Linked DNA regions of Homo sapiens. The protein of the gene in region 2 interacts with the protein of the main gene of each other region in a pairwise test. Each region holds a gene or a part of one and is shown on either strand. Other genes may lie near its edges. The genes, in order: LPXN and RNF214.

Region 1 (3,821 bases), about 59 Mb from region 2:
ATTAAATAAATAAATATATGTTGTAATGTCAGACAGAGATAAGTTATAGAAAGAGATAGAAGGGACACAGCAAGATGGTAAGAAGAATTGATTTAGATGGAGGTAATAATCAAAGAAGGCCCCTCTAAGGAAGTAATATTTGAGTAGATACTTGGGACTTAGAAATATTGACATTTATGGGAAAAGCATTCTAGGGGAAGGGAAGGCCCCGAGGAATAAAACAACTTGGCACATTAGAAGAAAAGTCAAAGAGGTCAGTGGGGCTAGAGCAGAGGGAGTGAGATTGAACACGGCAGGAGAAGGTGATGGAGAGAGAGGCAAAGATCACATAGGAACCTCATGGTAAACGCTTGGGTTTTATTCCAAGGTGATGGAAGCCATTGCAGGATTTCAAGCACAGGAGTGAAGGAATCTGGAGGATCCCTGTGGTAGCTGAGTGGAGAACTAAGTGTTGACAAGCAAGAGTGAATACAGGGAGATTTTCAGATAATGACTTAGATCAGTATTACAGGAGAAGGTGGTGAGAAGTGGTCAGATAAGACTTGTTGATGGATTGGAATTATTTAAGCAAAAGCCCAAAATTATTATAAACCATTCAAAGAAGGATCCTCAAATTAAAAGAAAAAAAAAAAAGGCTAACTGACCCTTCATAACCTCATAACCTGATTCTGGCTCTCTCTACTCCTTTCCAGCTGGGCGACTGCTACCATCTATCTACTGAATACTTCACTCATCAGAAAACTACAATGGCTCTCCATTGCCACCACATCAAGTCTTCACTCATCAGACAGACATTCAAAGCCTCCCATCCACTGTCCTCCCTTTTTATCTTTCCCAATTTCATCTTTTATTAATACTATGTTGTAAAAGGACAGCTGGGCTCTTCATCTCCTGAATGTGATCTGTTACTGTCTGCCTTAAGACCTCTACTTATCCTACTTTTACTGCCTGTTATAACATCACACTGTCACCAATCAAAATGCTCATTTTGCTTCGAGACATTTTGATCATCTGACAGACATCCTTCCTTCTCTAATATATGTTAGTTAATATTCAAGAGGTTAGTGTTCAGAAGGTTAGTGTCTGAAAGGTCTGAAAGGGTGACTGACATTAATTATGAAAAATAAGTAAAAATACAATATAACTACATCTACACCTACATCTCTATCTCTTCACTGTTATCTTCCAGAATACTTCTGAACAGATATAGAAGAGACAGGAAATTCTGCCTATCTCCGGTGGGGCAGAACTGGATGGCTAGGGTGCAGAGCTGAGAAGGAAACAGTTCAGTGCAAGCTTTTTGCACTTTTGATTTGTGTACAATGTGAAAGTGCAGCTTATTCAAAAGATAAATGGGGCCGGGCACAGTGGTTCATGCCTGTAATCCTAGTACTTTGAGAGGCCGAGGCAGACAGGTGGCCTGAGCTTAGAAGTTTGAGACCAGTCTGGGCAACATAGCAAAACCTCGTCTCTACTAAAAATACAAAAATTAGCTGGGCATGGTGGCACACGCCTGTAATCACAGCTACTCAGGAGGCTGAGGCACTAGAATCGCTTGAACCCAGGAGGTGGAGGTTGCAGTGAGCCGAGATCATGCCACTGCACTCCAGGCTGGGTAACCGAGTAAGAATCTGTCTCAAAAAAAAAAAAAAAAAAAAAGATGGTGTTGTAAATTAAAAATTTAAATCAACCAATACACAAGCTAAATCAACTAGAAACGCAACACAATTAAATCTAATGTACATTTTTTCTAGTATTTTCAGATATACAGCATAATGAGCCAATCTACCCAGCTTTATTGTAGACACTGGCCCATCAAAGGATGTCAGTCATTAAGGAAAACTTGTTTGTGATGTTTATTTACTCATCTCTCTAATAAATATGTGTTGCTCACGATGTATCAGGCCCTGTGCTGAGCATTGGGAGTCCCAAGGTGAGCTCTAAAGATAAGGTCCCTGCCCTCTCCAATCATATACATTTTTATATACTGCTTTGAAATTATTTCATAGTCATCTCATGAGTATATATCAAATCCTCCAACCAGATTTAAAATGGTTGGATTCTCCACCTTAAGGATTCTGGATTATATTTCCTTTAATAAATCTTTAAGCCCATTTATCTGAGATTTCCATTCCATGCCCGACTATGTGAGCTCACCACTTTAGAGGTGTTCTAGAGGCTAGAACAAAGAGGCAGATTTTATCTCAATATGGGCTTGGGACTTCTCATCCTTCCTACTGTCAGAGCCATACTTTGATCTCCCTTGCTGTGTCTCAGCTTGCTCACTGGTCTCCTCTGTCCTGCTTAGTCAGGTCTCTTTAACAGTCCTTTTGGCCGGGCGCAGTGGCTCACGCCTGTAATCCCAGCACTTTGGGAGGCCGAGGCAGGTGGATCACGAAGTCAGGAGTTCGAGACCAGCCTGGCCAAGATGGTGAAACTCCGTCTCTACTAAAAATACAACAAAAATGAGCCGTGCACAGTGGTGGGCACCTGTAATCCCAGCTACTCGGAAGGCTGAGGCAGGAGGATCGCTTGAACCTGGGAGGCGGAGGTTGCAGTAAGCCAAGATAGCGCTACTACACTCTAGCCTGGGCAACAGAGCAAGACTCCATCTCAAAAACAAACAAACAAACAAACAAACAAATGAAAAATCCTTCCACATCATCAAGCCTTAGATACCTCTGCCCTCAGGACTCATTGCAACTAAAACCACCTTTCTTCCCATCTCTTTATGTCCAAACTCTGCCAGTTCTTCAGAGTCCATCCCAAGTTTCAACTCTGATTAAATCTCCAAAATCTCTCTATATCCGTAATGTTTGCTCCACATATGTTTGCAAAACACCTGGCTTTTATTCTATAAATGTTAAGAAACTTATGCCTCATTTTGCCAAGCACACTCCAGCTCCTTGAGATCAAAGTCTGTATTATATATTAATTTTTGTGTCCAAATAACACATAGTACAAAGATGGGTTAATTCATGGAATTAAATTTAGTCTGAAAAAAGCAATGACAACTTAGGAAAATTCCTAAGTGGGAGAATGGAGAGCTGAGTTCCACAAAGATAAACTGGTGACCCCATGGGCCCTGTTTATCATCTGGACTGCACTCACCTTGGCCTGCACTCACCTTGGCCTGCACTCACCTTGGCCTGCATCTCAGTCAGGTGAGCCATGAGCTCATCCAACTGAGCAGCTGCTGACGTTTTAGAAGGTGGTGGTGATTCCTTTGGCTCTTGGGCTTCACTATAGAGGGAAAACAAAAAAGTCATATGAACAAATCAAAACTCAAATAATGTTAAACCACACATAAAGTACTGGAAATGCAACTGTAATAATGAATCCCCTGGATATGAAGCTAAAATCAGAGATGGGGGTATTTTAAAAATATATTAATATGTACTAGACCAAAAATCTAAACAAGTTCTCTCTGCCTTTTTTCTCTATTTCTCCCTGGTCATCTAATTATAAAAAGTATTATATCTCCTGTCAGTTTTTGTCAAAAAATAAAAATAAACTAGAATATAGAGCAGGCATCAACAAACTAAGGTCCTTGGATCAAATCTGGCCATGTCCATTCATTTATCTACTGTCCATAGCTGCTTTTCTGAACAGTTGGGTAGTTGCTACAAAGACTTTATAGTCCACAAAAGCCTAACAAACTTACTATCTGCCTCTTTACAGAACAAGTTTGCAAATCTCTGGTGCAGAAAGTTTAGATAATATATATGATGATGATTTCATATTCATATAATTGTAAGTAAATTATAAATAAATAAAACTTTGGACCCAATAAACAGAATACAGATTCTATTCAAGTAGCT
Region 2 (3,821 bases):
GCAGTGGTGCAATCTCGGCTTACGGCAACCTCCGCCTCCCGAGTTCAAGCAATTCTCTCTGCCTCAGCCTCCAGAGTAGTTGGGATTACAGGCACCCGCCACCACGTTCGGCTAATTTTTGTATTTTTAGGAGAGATGGGGTTTTGCCATGTTGGCCAGGCTGGTCTTGAACTCCTGACTTCAGGTGATACCCCTGCCTTGGCCTCTCAAAGTGCTGAGATTACAGGTGTGAGCCACTGCACCCGGCCTCACTGCCTTTTTAAAAGCATGTGGACCTCACTACCACCCAAAAGATAGAGCCAAACAAAACTCAACCCTGGGCCTCTTCTGGCCCAGTAACTTGCTGGGTTTCCATTCGTTCCTGTTTCATCTACTTGACTGTTACAATTAAGTCCCAAGTTGCTAGTCTCTATTTTAAAACTTTTCTTGGCTTCATCTGGTTAATGTACACCAGTAACTTTTTTCCGTATGCCCTTCAATTTCTTCAACTTGCACCAAATATCCACTCTCTTATCTGGTTGCTACAAGCACTTTCCCTTTTTATACCACTCTTTATAAATTAACATATCTTACCCTAAAGACCTCTTCCTGGGGTGCCTTTCCCAGCATTACCTTCCCTTTAAAAAGTGTACATTTAGATATCCATATACTTAAAGGTGGAAGTTTTAGCCACAAAAGGCCAGGGATGGATCAAAGGGAGCATTTTAACAAAGGTAAGTGTGACGTTCTCTTCAAAAGCCAACTATCTGGGGATAAAATTAAAAAGACACAAGTAAATAATACATGAAAAAAAGACTGGATGGAATTTGACTAAAAGCTTAACAGTATGAAAAAACTGCCAAAATAAGTCAATGTAAGCTTAAGAAATAGTGTCTAGAATGAGAGATACTGAGAGATCCCACTGTATTATAAAGTAATTATACTGTATCTGTACTATTATATATGGTTCTCAAGATCACTTTTTAAAACAAATATTGATAAAATAGAACATGTCTAAGTGAAAGTAACCAGAATGATGATAAAGAAATGGAAAATAGTATCAAAATAGTATCAAAAAGAATACTAAAAACATCTGAGGATGTTTCACCTGGAAAGGTTTGAACTTGGGGAGTAAGAGAATAAGAGCAGGAGGCATAAAAAAACTTCAAATATACACATGGCTAACAAGCAGGAAAGGAACTGGATTTATTCCATAAAGCTCAAGAGAAAGCTACAATAAGAACTTTTTTTTTTTTTTTTTGAGACAGATTCTCACTCTGTCACCAGGCTGGAGTGCAGTGGTGCAATCTCAGCTTACTGCAACCTCTACCTCCCGGGTTCAAGCAATTCTCCTGCCTCACCCTCCTGAGTAGCTAGGACTAGAGGCATGCGCCACCACACCCAGCTAATTTTTGTATTTTTAGTAGAGATGGGGTTTCACCATATTGGCCAGGATGGGCTCAATCTCTTGACCTCGTGATCTACCCGCCTCGGCCTCCCAAAGTGCTAGGATTACAAGCATGAGCCACTGTGCCCGGCCTAAAGCAAGAAGCTCACTGCCACCTCAGCCTCCTGGGTTCAAGCAATTCTTCTACCTCAACCTCCCAAGTAGCTGGGATTACAGGCTAATTTTTGTTTTTTTGTTGTTGTTTGTTTGTTTTTGAGAGAGTCTCACTCTGTCACCCAGGCTGGAGTGCAGTGGTACGATCTCGGGTCACTGCAATCTCTGCCTCCCAGGTTCAAGCTAATCTCATGCCTCAGCCACCCAAGTAGCTGGGATTACAGGCACACGCCACCACACCTGGCTAATTTTTTGTATTTTTAGTAGAGATGGGGTTTCGCCATGTTGCCCAGGCTGGTCTCGAACTCCTGCGCTCAGGCAATCTGCCTGCCTCAGCCTCCCAAAGCGCTAGGATTACAGACGTGAGCCACCGTGGCTGGTCTAAATTTTTGTATTTTTAGTAGGGACGAGGTTTCACCATGTTAGTCAGGCTGGTCTCAAACTCCTGACCTCAGGTGATCCACCCGCCTCAGCCTCTGAAAGTGCTAGGATTACAGGCGTGAGTCACCGCGCCCGGCCTGAAGCAAGAAGTTATAAGGTTTTTATCTTCATCTCAGAACAAAATCTAATAAGAGGTTTCATTTTTGTTTTTTGAGATGGAGCTTCTCTGTTGTCCAGGCTGGGGTGCAGTGGTGCAATCTTGGCTCACTGCAACCTCTGCCTCCTGGGTTCAAGCCATTCTCCTGCCTCAGCCTCCCGAGTAGCTGGGATTACAGGCACACACCACCACGCCCGGCTAATTTTTGTATTTTTAGTAGAGATGGGGTTTCACCACGTTGGCCAGCTTGGTCTCAAACTCTCAACCTCAGGTGATCCACCTGCCTTGGCCTCCCAAAGTGCTGGGATTACAGGCGTGAGCCACTGTGCCCGGCCTTTTTTTTTTTTTTTTTTTTTAATTTTTTTTGAGACAGGGTCTCACTCTGTCACCCAGGCTGCAGTACAATCGCACAATCACGGCTCACACAGCCTCGACCTCCTTGGCTCAGGTGAACAGGTGATCCTCCCACCTGTCTCCTGAGTAGCTAGGACTCCTGAGTAGCTAGGACTATAGGCATGCACCACCACACCTGGCTAATTTTTGTATTTTTTGTAGACATGGTGTTTCACTGTGTTGCCCAGGCTGGTCTCAAACTCCAGGGCTCAAGCGATCCACCCACTTCGGCTTCCCAAAATGTTAGGATTATGGGTGTGAGCCACTGTGCCTGGCCAATAAGAGCTATTTTTTTTTTTAAACGTAACTGGTTGCTTTGTGAGGTAGTAAGCTTCCCATCTTTGGAAGTGATCAAGGAAAAGTCACCTGACCATCTGTCAGGAATTTTATGAAAGGGACTCCTGCACCTTTTCCAACTGAGATGATATGCCTCTAGATCTTCTATTTGATAATGGCTTCATATAACAAGGACAGTTTAAATACTTACCAAATTCTTTTCAATATCTTGATCTGTGTTTACCTCTGAATCAGCTGTCTTAAAGTCAGTCTATAAAGGAAAAAAGTTATATTTAGAATCGTTCAGAGACACTTTAAAAGAGGCAGAATCACTAACACCTAGAATTCCGCCACAGGTAACTAACTTTTTACTCTTTCCCCTTACCAGCTTCCAAGCAAGCTAAGCAATGTAGTTCTGGCAAACGGACACCAACATCCACGCTGCATTAATCATCGGTCCCACAAAATAACCCAAACAAGACCCAATGACTGACTGAGAGAAAGCCTCAAGTCTGAGATGAGACGTCTGCCCTCTACAGTCTGTTGTGCCCATACTTTCTCCTACAACAAAGCACACCCGTCACTAGAAGGCAGGATACACTGTACTTCTTAAGATGTGACTCAGAGAATTAACAAGGATTCTTCCTGCAAGGTCAAAGATGATAAATATGAATGCTAATGTCCTGCACTCATCAGTTACTCAGTGAAAGAGACTACACGTAGGTCATAAAGTTCCTACTTGCCATAAGATTAGACAATGGCTACTGGCTTTCTTATTTACTGAACATCAGAATGAAGTCATTGTATGGCACTGTATGAGAGTAGTATGATGGTTGCTAGCAAAAAAAACAAAAAACAAAACAAGCCAGCAAGTTCTCCACCAAATATGAAGAAATATCTCCCACCCTGAACCCCACCACCCCCCAATTACATTTTAGTAGTAGAAACTTGACACTTGACCTGTACAGCAATGTTCTGAGAAAGCTTCAGGGAAGAGCTATCTTGATCATCATCCTGATCCACTCGGACTCCTTCAACCCCATTTGCTGGAGACACTACAGGTCGGAAATCCAA

What was found.
Region 1: the proteins of RNF214 (region 2) and LPXN interact in a two-hybrid assay, tested with the Homo sapiens proteins (one large-scale study listed by BioGRID).

Annotation. Positions count from the first base shown.
Region 1 is NC_000011.10:58,551,698-58,555,518, forward strand, and holds part of LPXN (leupaxin), read right to left. Parts: intron 3,244-3,821; coding exon 3,144-3,243; intron 1-3,143. UniProt on the Homo sapiens protein: Transcriptional coactivator for androgen receptor (AR) and serum response factor (SRF). Contributes to the regulation of cell adhesion, spreading and cell migration and acts as a negative regulator in integrin-mediated cell adhesion events.
Region 2 is NC_000011.10:117,238,998-117,242,818, reverse strand, and holds part of RNF214 (RING finger protein 214), read right to left. Parts: coding exon 3,708-3,821; intron 3,019-3,707; coding exon 2,959-3,018; intron 1-2,958.